Regions from separate parts of the Homo sapiens genome. Here region 2 is linked to region 1. A link means that fine-mapping ties the variant in region 1 to the expression of a gene that starts in the linked region. Tissue or cell type: cerebellum. Region 1 holds a variant in brackets; the other region holds the start of a gene. All regions are shown on one strand. Distances are between the middles of the regions.

Evidence for each region. PIP is the estimated chance that this variant, and not a neighbour inherited with it, causes the effect.
Region 2: it holds the start of SPATA9, and the variant in region 1 is fine-mapped to the expression of SPATA9 in cerebellum (GTEx, PIP 0.95).

The regions. Positions count from the first base shown.
Region 1 is chr5:95,818,254-95,823,724 of GRCh38, forward strand. It overlaps GLRX (glutaredoxin), which reads right to left and starts at 4,473. Exons shown (of 3, transcript NM_001118890.2): 1 at 4,203-4,473. The coding sequence starts at 4,409. RefSeq lists enhancers at 2,845-2,984, 4,901-4,990, 5,221-5,471. The variant C/G (reference allele first, on the strand shown) is at 2,361.
Region 2 is chr5:95,681,476-95,685,475 of GRCh38, forward strand. It overlaps SPATA9 (spermatogenesis associated 9), which reads right to left and starts at 1,516. Exons shown (of 5, transcript NM_031952.4): 1 at 1,319-1,516; 2 at 1,053-1,141. The coding sequence starts at 1,379. It overlaps LOC105379090 (a long non-coding RNA gene), which reads left to right. Exons shown (of 2, transcript XR_948588.3): 2 at 3,120-3,298.

The sequences.
Region 1 (5,471 bases):
GTACCCCTAACGGGAGCTGAATGGCAGGCTGTACAGACGGCACGGGGGTGCTGTGGCAGTGAAACCAAAGCAAGAAGTACTGTTGATAAAGTTGAGCAAAGAAGAGGAAATACCCTGTGCTGCTTCCCCTCCTGTCCCTTCCCGTCCCAGCCTCCTCTTTAGAGGAACTTGAGAGTCCGCTACTGTCAAGGAGAGGAAAGAACTGCCACCCCAAAACGAGTTTGGTAATCCTGTGGTTCTTATTCTCCTGCACTAGGTTTCCCCAGCCTCAGCCAGGCAACATCTCCTGTACGCTAGCTAGGGTTACACAAATGCAACTACTCAAAAGCAATTTCTCAACACTCCTCGGCTACCTCCCTGGTATAAGCCACCTTCATCTGTCACCTGAATAACTACTATAGCCTCCCAATGTCTCCCAGCTTCAACCTTCACCTTTGCCCTACTGTCTCTTCTCCCCACAGCTGCCAGAGTGGCCCTTTCAAAATGGGGTCAGATCAAGTGACTCGTCTGCTCAGCACCCACCAGGGGCATCTCATCTCACACCGAGTACCAGTCACAGTTCTTCCAAGCTCCTATTAGCTCTCAGACCTCACCTCCACTAACTCTCCTACTGGCTCACAGTGCTGCAACTATACTGGCTTCCTTACTATTCCACAAACCTGCCAGGCAAACGTCTACCCCAGGACCTTTGCATTCACTCTACCTGTAAATTGTGTACACCCATCTCCCTCAGCTCCTATAGATATCTGCTCGAATGTTCCCTTCTCAGTGAGACCCAATGGCTCCATTTAAAACTGGACCCTGATGCTTCCTCCCTACCTTTCCTACTTTTCCTCATAGCACGTGCCACTTACCAACTCCCAACATACTGTTTTATTACTGTATTTGTTTGTCTCCCCCACTAGAATATAGGTTCAACAAAGGCAGAAGGGTTTTTTTCATGGCAGAAAAGGCAGAATTTTTTCCCCAATGTACATAAAAGTGTCTGGTACATAGTAGGTGCTTAAAAATATTTGTTGCATCCAGTAAAATCATCATTCAAATGCGAAGGAGAAATACTTTCTAAGGTAAACAAAACTTGAGGGAATGTGTTACCAATGGAATCACCTTGCAAGAAATGCCCAAAGAAGTTCTTCAGAGAGAAGGGAAATGATATAGTTCAGAAACTCAGATCTATGTAAAGAAAAGTGCATTAGAGGAGAAATAAATGAAGGCACTAATTTAGGAGCTGTGACTATAGCAAAACAAAAACAGGTTTTACCAAGTACATGGCTTGATTGAAGCCACTAACTTTCCATAATCATGTCCTGCTGATTACCTACTAGATACAGCTACTTTATAGAATAATTAAGACTGCAGGATCAGGCCGGGCGCCGTGGCTCACGCCTGTAATCCCAGCACTTTGGGAGGCTGAGGCGGGTGGATCACGAGGTCAGGAGATTGAGACCATCCTGGCTAACACAGTGAAAACCCGTCTCTACTAAACATACAAAAAATTAGCCAGGCATGGTGGCAGACGCCTGTAGTCCCAGCTACTCGAGAGGCTGAGACAGGAGAATAGCGTGAACCCGGGAGGTGGAGCTTGCAGTGAGCTGAGATTGCGCCATTGCACTCCAGCCTGGGCACAGAGGGAGACTCCGTCTCAAAAAAAAAAAAAAAAAAAAAAAAACCCTCGGGAGCTTTCAGACCCTTTGAATACAAACACTTCCCTGTTGGGGATCAAACATGCAGCTTTAAAAGGCTTGTTCTTCCCCTAGGAGGAATGCACTCAGAATTCAAGAATCTGTGAAAAACATTTTTCTAAAAATGAAAAACAGGCTTGTTGAGGTGGATCACATCTGTAATCCCAGCACTCTGGGAAGCTGAGGTGGGAGGATAGCTTGAGGCCAGGAGTTCAAGACCAGCCTGGGTAACATAACAAGACCCCCATCTGTACAAAAACTTAAAAAATTAGCTGGGTATGATGGCTCATGCCTGTAGTCCCAGCCACGGGAGGCTGAGGTGGGAGGGTCACTTAAGCCCAGGAGTTCGAGGCTGCAGTCAGCTATCATTGCACCACTGCACTCTAGCCTGGGTGACAGAGCAAGACTCTGTCTCTTAAAAAAAAAAAAAAAAAAAAAAACCTTAAAAGATTACTACAAGAAATATTGTTGTTCTACAAAGAAATGAAAAAGCAATTGTTGACCAGGTGTGGTAGCTCACACCTGCACTTTGGGAGGCTGAGGTGGGTGGATCACCTGAGGTCAGGAGTTCGAGACCAGGTTGGCCAGCATGGTGAAACCCCATCTCTAATAAAAATACAAAAATTAGCTAGGTGTGGTGGCAGGTGCCCGTAATTCCAGCTACTTGATTGCTTGAAC[C/G]TGGGCGGTGGAGGTTGCAGTAAGCCAAAATCACACCACTGCACTCCAGCCTGGGCGACAAGAGCGAAATTCCATCTCAAAAAAAAAAAAAAAGCAATTGTTAAATGAACACATGAAGAGGTTTGCTTTACCTCCTGGAAAATAGATGCTGTTGGGCTGAGAACAATAATCCCAATTGTGTTGCACATTGGAATCCCCAAGGGATTTTTCCAAATAAAAATCCCAGGTGTGGTGGCTCACCCGTTTAATCCCAGCACTTTGGGAGGCCGAGGTAGGTGGATCGCCTGAGGTCAGGAGTTCGACACCAGCCTGGCCAACATGGTGAAACCCCGTCTCTACTAAAAATACAAAAATTAGCTGGGCATGGTGGTGGGCGCCTGTAATCCCAGCTACTTGGGAGGTTGAGGAGAACCCAGGAGGCAGAGGTTGCAGTGAGCCAAGATTGCACCATTGCACTCCAGCCTGGGTGACAAGAATGAAACTGTCTCAAAACAAACGAACAAACAAAACTAATGCTTGGCTCCCACCTCTGACATTGTGATTTAGTTATTGAGGGGCATAATTTGGGCATAAGGATTGTTTTAAAAGCTCTCTAGGTGATCCTAATGTGCAGCAAAGTTTGGGAACCAATGGCTAAAAGGTCCTCAGGGTGGCAGCCACAGTGGGGCCCGTAGTAGTGTTTGCACTGCCCTTTACACCTCTCAGGGCCTGGGCATCCTATGCAGCTGGTGGTCCCACTAGGCAGCAAGAGCTTCTCTCGTCATTGTGTATACTCCAGGACCTCAGCACACAGCAGTAGGATAACACACTAAGCCCCCTTTCTGCACCAAAATGCTGACTTCTTATTAGAGAGAAGGGGAGAGAAACAACCTCCAATGCTTTATACTCAGAACCCAGAGACAACCTTGTAAGTCAAACTAAAACTGAAATAGGATATGTGCTTGGCCTAACACTGTGCTGTAGAATTCGTGCATCGTAAAAGAGAACTTAGCTGAGCTGGTGGGACATTTCTCATCCCACCTCACAGCAGAACTGATACAGGTGATGTGGCTGGCATCCCTCCTGAAGCCCAGGACGCAAAGCCAAGGATGCTGAAGAGAGGGAAGTCTTTCGGATGGAGGAGAGCAATTTTTAGAGGGTCCCACAGTCTATTCGTAGCAAATGGGACTCTGAGGTCACCTAATCTGGTCTTGCAGCTGGGATCTTTGAGGACTACTGGGGTGGTGACTTGCCCAGGATCACACAGCCAGCCATTATAAGAGCCAGGCCAGAACTCCAGGCTATGATTCCCTACAATGTGGGGCCTGGAAACATCCATAATTAATTTAGAACAAGGGGCAGATAACGGTACATTAGATTTTTCCAGTGGGAGGAATTAGATAAGGAAGAATGAGCAAATTAGAAAAAGAAAGCCTAGAGAAAAGAATGAAGAACATGAATCTCATGTTAAATAACAAACACATCACACCCGGCCCTCCACCCCAGCTTCCACCTCCAGCCCTGCCAACTGAAAACTGTCATTTCCTGGCAGTGCTTAAAACAAAGACTCTAGATAATTCCCCAGGGACTCACCGGCAAGCTGCTGGTCCCACTTACCCTGCCGCACAGCAGACATCAGCTGTACTCCCTCTTCTGCCCCGTGAAGACCTTTGGCTGCAGTGCCGCCGCTCATTCAAGTGACCGAGATCCTCTCTAAGGCGCCCTCCCCCACACCCCCCGCCCCGCACAGCCCTCTGGACGCCTTGAAGTACGGAGCCGCAGCCTTATCCTAAAGAAAGGCACAGCTCTGACAAGAAAAGGCAATCCGGGAGCCTTTCCCTAGCCGTTTAAAATGAAACTCACCGTTCTTGCTCCCGTGAGCTGTTGCAAATAATCTTGAATCTCGTTAGTGTGGTTGGTGGCTGTGATATCGACAAATTCCAGAAGCCCTTGTTTGATGGGCAATTGACTGAGGATCTCTTGGGCCCTCCTGCAGTACGGGCAGGTGGGCTTGATGAACACAACCACCTTCCCAGGCTGGATTTTGCAGTTCACAAACTCTTGAGCCATGCCGATGGGCTGCGGTCTCCCCGGGAAGAATCCTCAGTTGCAGGTATTGCTTGGGGTATTGAGCCCCGACCCAGCCAGTTGGCTCCTATTTAATAAGGAACCTCCCTGGAGGCGGAGTTTGCCTGGTAGCTTGCTCGAGTTTTAAAGGGACAGCTTCGAAGACATTTCCATCTGGTATACTTCACTAGTTAGCAATGCCCAGGAATGCAATACTTGCTATTTAATCATTGGTAGCTATGAAAGACACTCTGGGTATCTTTGTTGTCCTTGGACATTTGGGGAGTGCCTGCCCATTGGCAATGATCAGAGTTTAGTCACCTCTGGGGAAGCATAAAGTGCTTACTCACAAAGGGGCTGAGGAGGCAGTGACTTCTTAGAGCAAATTCTTGTTTTCCCTCTAGGAGATACAGTTGTATTTTAAAATGCAAACAGAATCACTTAAGAAACAGAACACTTGGAAATCTCTTTAGAAGAAGTGAAATTGAAACTGTGACTTTGCACTCCTCATGAAGGTTGCTCTCACAGCATTTTGCTTGGACTGTATGGTGGGTGTTTGTTGTTGTGATCTTTTTAATGGAATTCATTCTCAGTATTTAAAAATCTGGAGGTCTCACAAAACAATTCGGACTTAAAACTTCTCTCTGAAAAGTCAGGTCGGGCAATACAGAGCTTGCACCTTTTAGTGGAAGCTGCTGGGGCTGACAGCTGTTGCCCCCTTTGTATAGGGCAAGTAGTGGCTTTGGTTTGCCACAGGTCCCAACGACAGGCCCATGCCTGAGACACCGGCTTCACCCCATAACCATTTGAGTTGGTAACCCTTGAACAGCAGTTTAATATGGAGGCAAATTCCAACACAATCCTTGATACAAAACTACAGATGAAATGAGAATCTTTTTTTCTGGTTGAGCCTATGTTTGTGACCCTCTGCTTTTAACTGTTTGTGAGGGGAAGTAGTGTTGTAACTCAGACACCACATTCACTTCAAGTGTTATAAGACACGGGTTGTAACAGTAGGAAATCTTTCGCTCTTCCCCAGGGTGCCCATTCTCCTTATCCCGCAAA
Region 2 (4,000 bases), 140 kb before region 1:
TTCCTCAGTAGAGTCATTCACTCCTCTAAATTACATACAGAGATGTAACACTGACCATATTCTAATGCAATTACTCCTTTACAACTCTATCTCCATTAGATTAAGCTCATTAGCGGAAAGGATCACGTCGTGTTTATCTCTGTATTTCCTCTCTCCAGTCCCAAGCAATAGTGAGGTGTTTACTAAATGTCTGATGGCTGGTTGTCTGCAGGCGTGGTTAAAGTTAGCTCTAATATCCCTCCTTTGGAATGAAATATGTATACTTTGTGATTACTGTGTTAATCAGAGTGCTTTTTGTTAACTGCCAGGTTTTGGTTATATACCTCATGTTTGACATTGTCAAGAGTCTGACTTCTGGATAAGTGGATTGTTCCTGTACCATGTACCTTCACAGCATATTCTATTCCAACTATGATCAAAATGACCGAACCACATTTTTCCATTAAGAGCTGTGTGCCTTTGAGTAAATTAGGTTACATGTGTTCCCTAAACAAGTTGTTACTTTTTCCTGACTTTATGTCTCTTCAAAATATATACCTCCCTCCTCTTTCACTCCCAATATTTTATCTGTTTCAAATCCTTTTTGGAACAGAGGTTTAAAAAATATACATGTATACCTTATTTAAATTGATACTACTGTTTTCTTTCCTTATTAAACACACATCCATGTTGTATTTATCTTTCCATTGTTACAATTTATCTCAAGGTTTTGCACTGATTTGACATAGATTTTTGCTAAAGTGTATCTAGGTATTTTTCTGATTTTACATTGCAATTGTAGTGTTGAGAGACTGCCAGGTGTTTACCCTAATGACATAGTTAATGTCTTTAAACTTAATTCTCAATCTACCTCACTTCTTGGTCCACAATCTCTCTGCTTCCCAAAGACCCCTCTTAATGAGTAATATTTGAAATTTGTTTTTCTGAGGCAAAATTAGTGTTTTCTAAAGTTTTGATCACTGATCTCAAAATCAAGCATTAAATAATGGGTATGATACTAAAAATAGAATATATTTTTTCTATTCCTTTTAAAGGTTATAAAATCACATTACCTGATTAGACTGTGATAATCTTAGGATGGTGGGAAATTCATCTTTAAACTCATCTACAAGGTCCATGATTGCTTTCTGGATCCCCTCGACTAAGACAAAAAGAGGTTAGGAAAAAGAAAACTTTGAAAACATCCCCTAAATGTTTCAAAAGAACATGAAACACTTGATCAAATTCCTAGATGACTCGGAAAGTAAAGGAACTCTAGGGGATCTTATTCCCAATTGTTCCCACACCCATACGCCCTTTACAACAAGATTGTGTATACTTCTTCCAGAAAAGTTCTTCAACACCTGCCCACATATCCACCCAACAGGTTTGATTGGCATGGTGAGTTCTTGCTTGGGTTCCTAGTCCTTAACAAGCTTGCAGGCCTGGGTAATGCTTGTCCTAGTCTGCCATTAGTGAAAGATGAGGGTAGCCTTCCACTTGGGAAAGCCAGCAAGGACAGAACTCACAGCTCACTGCTGGAATTCTTTGTTACTGTACAATAGGCTTCCGAGAACCTGCTACAGAATCTTCTGACATCACTCTGGCAGTGAGAGGAAGAGGAGTGTGTTTGGAGGCATAAGGGAAGGAGTGAGGGGATTGAATAATAAAGTACACTAAGGAGTTCTATGATATAAGTTGAAATTTGTCCCAAATTCTGCAGTGATACCACAAATAATGGATCATCTGAGAACAAAAGGTCCCTTTGAAAAAAAATGGCATGTGCTTTAAAAGAAATGCTTTATATATGATGCCAAATAGAAAAGAAACACCAGCAGTGAATTCAGAAAGACTTCTGAATAGATTGTTTTTGCTTCACCAATGAGGATCACTAGGTCAAACTCGGGCAAAACTGTAAAGTCTTTGGTTTCTCTGCTTTATAATCTCAATCTCTTTTCTTCATCTTTTACCCTCCTAGTACCCTCACATGTCAGATGACCATTAGTTCCCCCGATCAAATATGGGAAGAACTTGATACCATGCAGACTTGATTGACTGCCTAGTTTTATATATATATAGTTTGTTTGTTTGTTTGTTTTTTGAGATGGAGTCTTGCCCTGTTGCCCAGGCTGGAGTGCAGTGGCGCGATCTTGGCTCACTGCAACCTCAGCCTCCCGGGTTCACACCATTCTCCTGTCTCAGCCTCCCGAGTAGCTGGGACTACAGACACCCACCACCACGCCTGGCTAACTTTTTGCATTTTTAGTAGAGACGGGGTTTCACCGTGTTAGCTAGGATGGTCTCCATCTCCTGACCTCATGATCCGCCTGCCTCGGCCTCCCAAAGTGCTGGGATTACAGATGTGAGCCACCACGCCCGGCCGACAGCCTAGTTATATTTTAGTGTGAATGAAATAGTTGGTTAACCTGAATCCCATTCTAATTTGAAGCCCTCATATTTAATTGCAGCTAGACCACTTTCTTCAGCAAGCATAAAGCCACGGCTGCTGAAAGTGTCTTCATGGGAACAGTTTGGGAAAGAGAAATCTTCATCCCAGGATTCCTCTAGCATGGGAAGCCTGAAAATCCCCAGCTCTCATGGTGTTCTTAGTCCACAATCTGCCTTAGAACACCCTCCGCCATACCACATTCACCTCTCCTAACCAAAATAGAACCTGCTTGCCTCTCATGACTCTCATGGTTAAGATAACTATGCCCTTAACATTTGGAAAGTGCAATCCATCGGTACAAAGAAAATCATACTAGACAATGATGAATACACACGCTGGGAGTCTATGAGATAATGAAATACTTTATCTGTCCTAGCAAGATAGTTGGTCATCAGCGTCCACTGCAGATGAACACCTGGCAGATCCTTCTCTTTCTGGTCTTCCTCCCTGTTCTCCATTCTCCTCCCTTCCACCATCCCCTAGTTCTTTTTATCCACTGATTCCAATGTCATTGCCCAACTGGTTTTACCCAATTTTCTTCTCTTTTCATCAGTCCTCTCCCTCCTAGGCATCCTATAAAATTAACAAATCTAGAGGAAAAGCATTTCTCAGGCTAATGTTTACTGCACTTAAAGCATAAGCAACTCTTTGTGTTTGCTAACAACGTCCTTTTTGTCTTTTCTTACTTAAGAGCCCTCTCCCCAGAAGTAGAGTGGTGAAAAATGACAGACGGTGATGGAGTAAGAAAATCTCACCCTGCAGCACTTACATTATGACCTTATAATATTTTGGTTTGTGTTTAATTATCTTCTTATGCCAATAATCTTATGCATCTTATGTTATTTCAGATAATAAACTTAGACAAAAGAACCCACAATGTCTGTTTTTTTCTTGTTAATTCTTCATTATGTTATTCTTTAGAGTTCATAATAGAGTACCCCATAATTATAAAATAAACTAGGAAACAATTAAAAATATCTCCAAATAATTTTTATGACAGCTGTACAGATTTATCTGTACTTAAAAGGCTTTAATACAGAAGAACAGAACTTTTGTTTTGCACACAGCTTTGAAGAAAATGAACATTTTACATAATCACATATAGACAGTATAAACTTAGTGATAGAAATATAGAAATCTGGGGGTCAGTCAGACCTGGGTTTGAGTTTCAATTCTATCACTTACCAGGCTTTGCCGTGGGCAAATTACATAAGTTCTATAAGCCTCTTACCTTTTAAAAAGGAAACAATACTTGATGAACATTAAATACCCAATAAGTGGCAGGTTTCATTAAATATGCACTGACCTTTTGGTTTTGGAAATTTTGCAAAACTTGGGTAAAACTCAATGCTGGGCTTGCCCGATTCACCTGGGCTTCAGCATTTTGATTTGCACCAAACTGGCTAGAACCCTAACAACCTTCCTAATTGGATCCTTCCCTCAAACCTACTTCAAATTCAACAGAGATGAAGTCATACTCCTCACTTCATGTATTACCTACCAATCCTCAAAACCTATCTGCCATGTGAGACTTCTTTAAGAATTGTTGTTGGCCTTAGATCAAGGATTTGG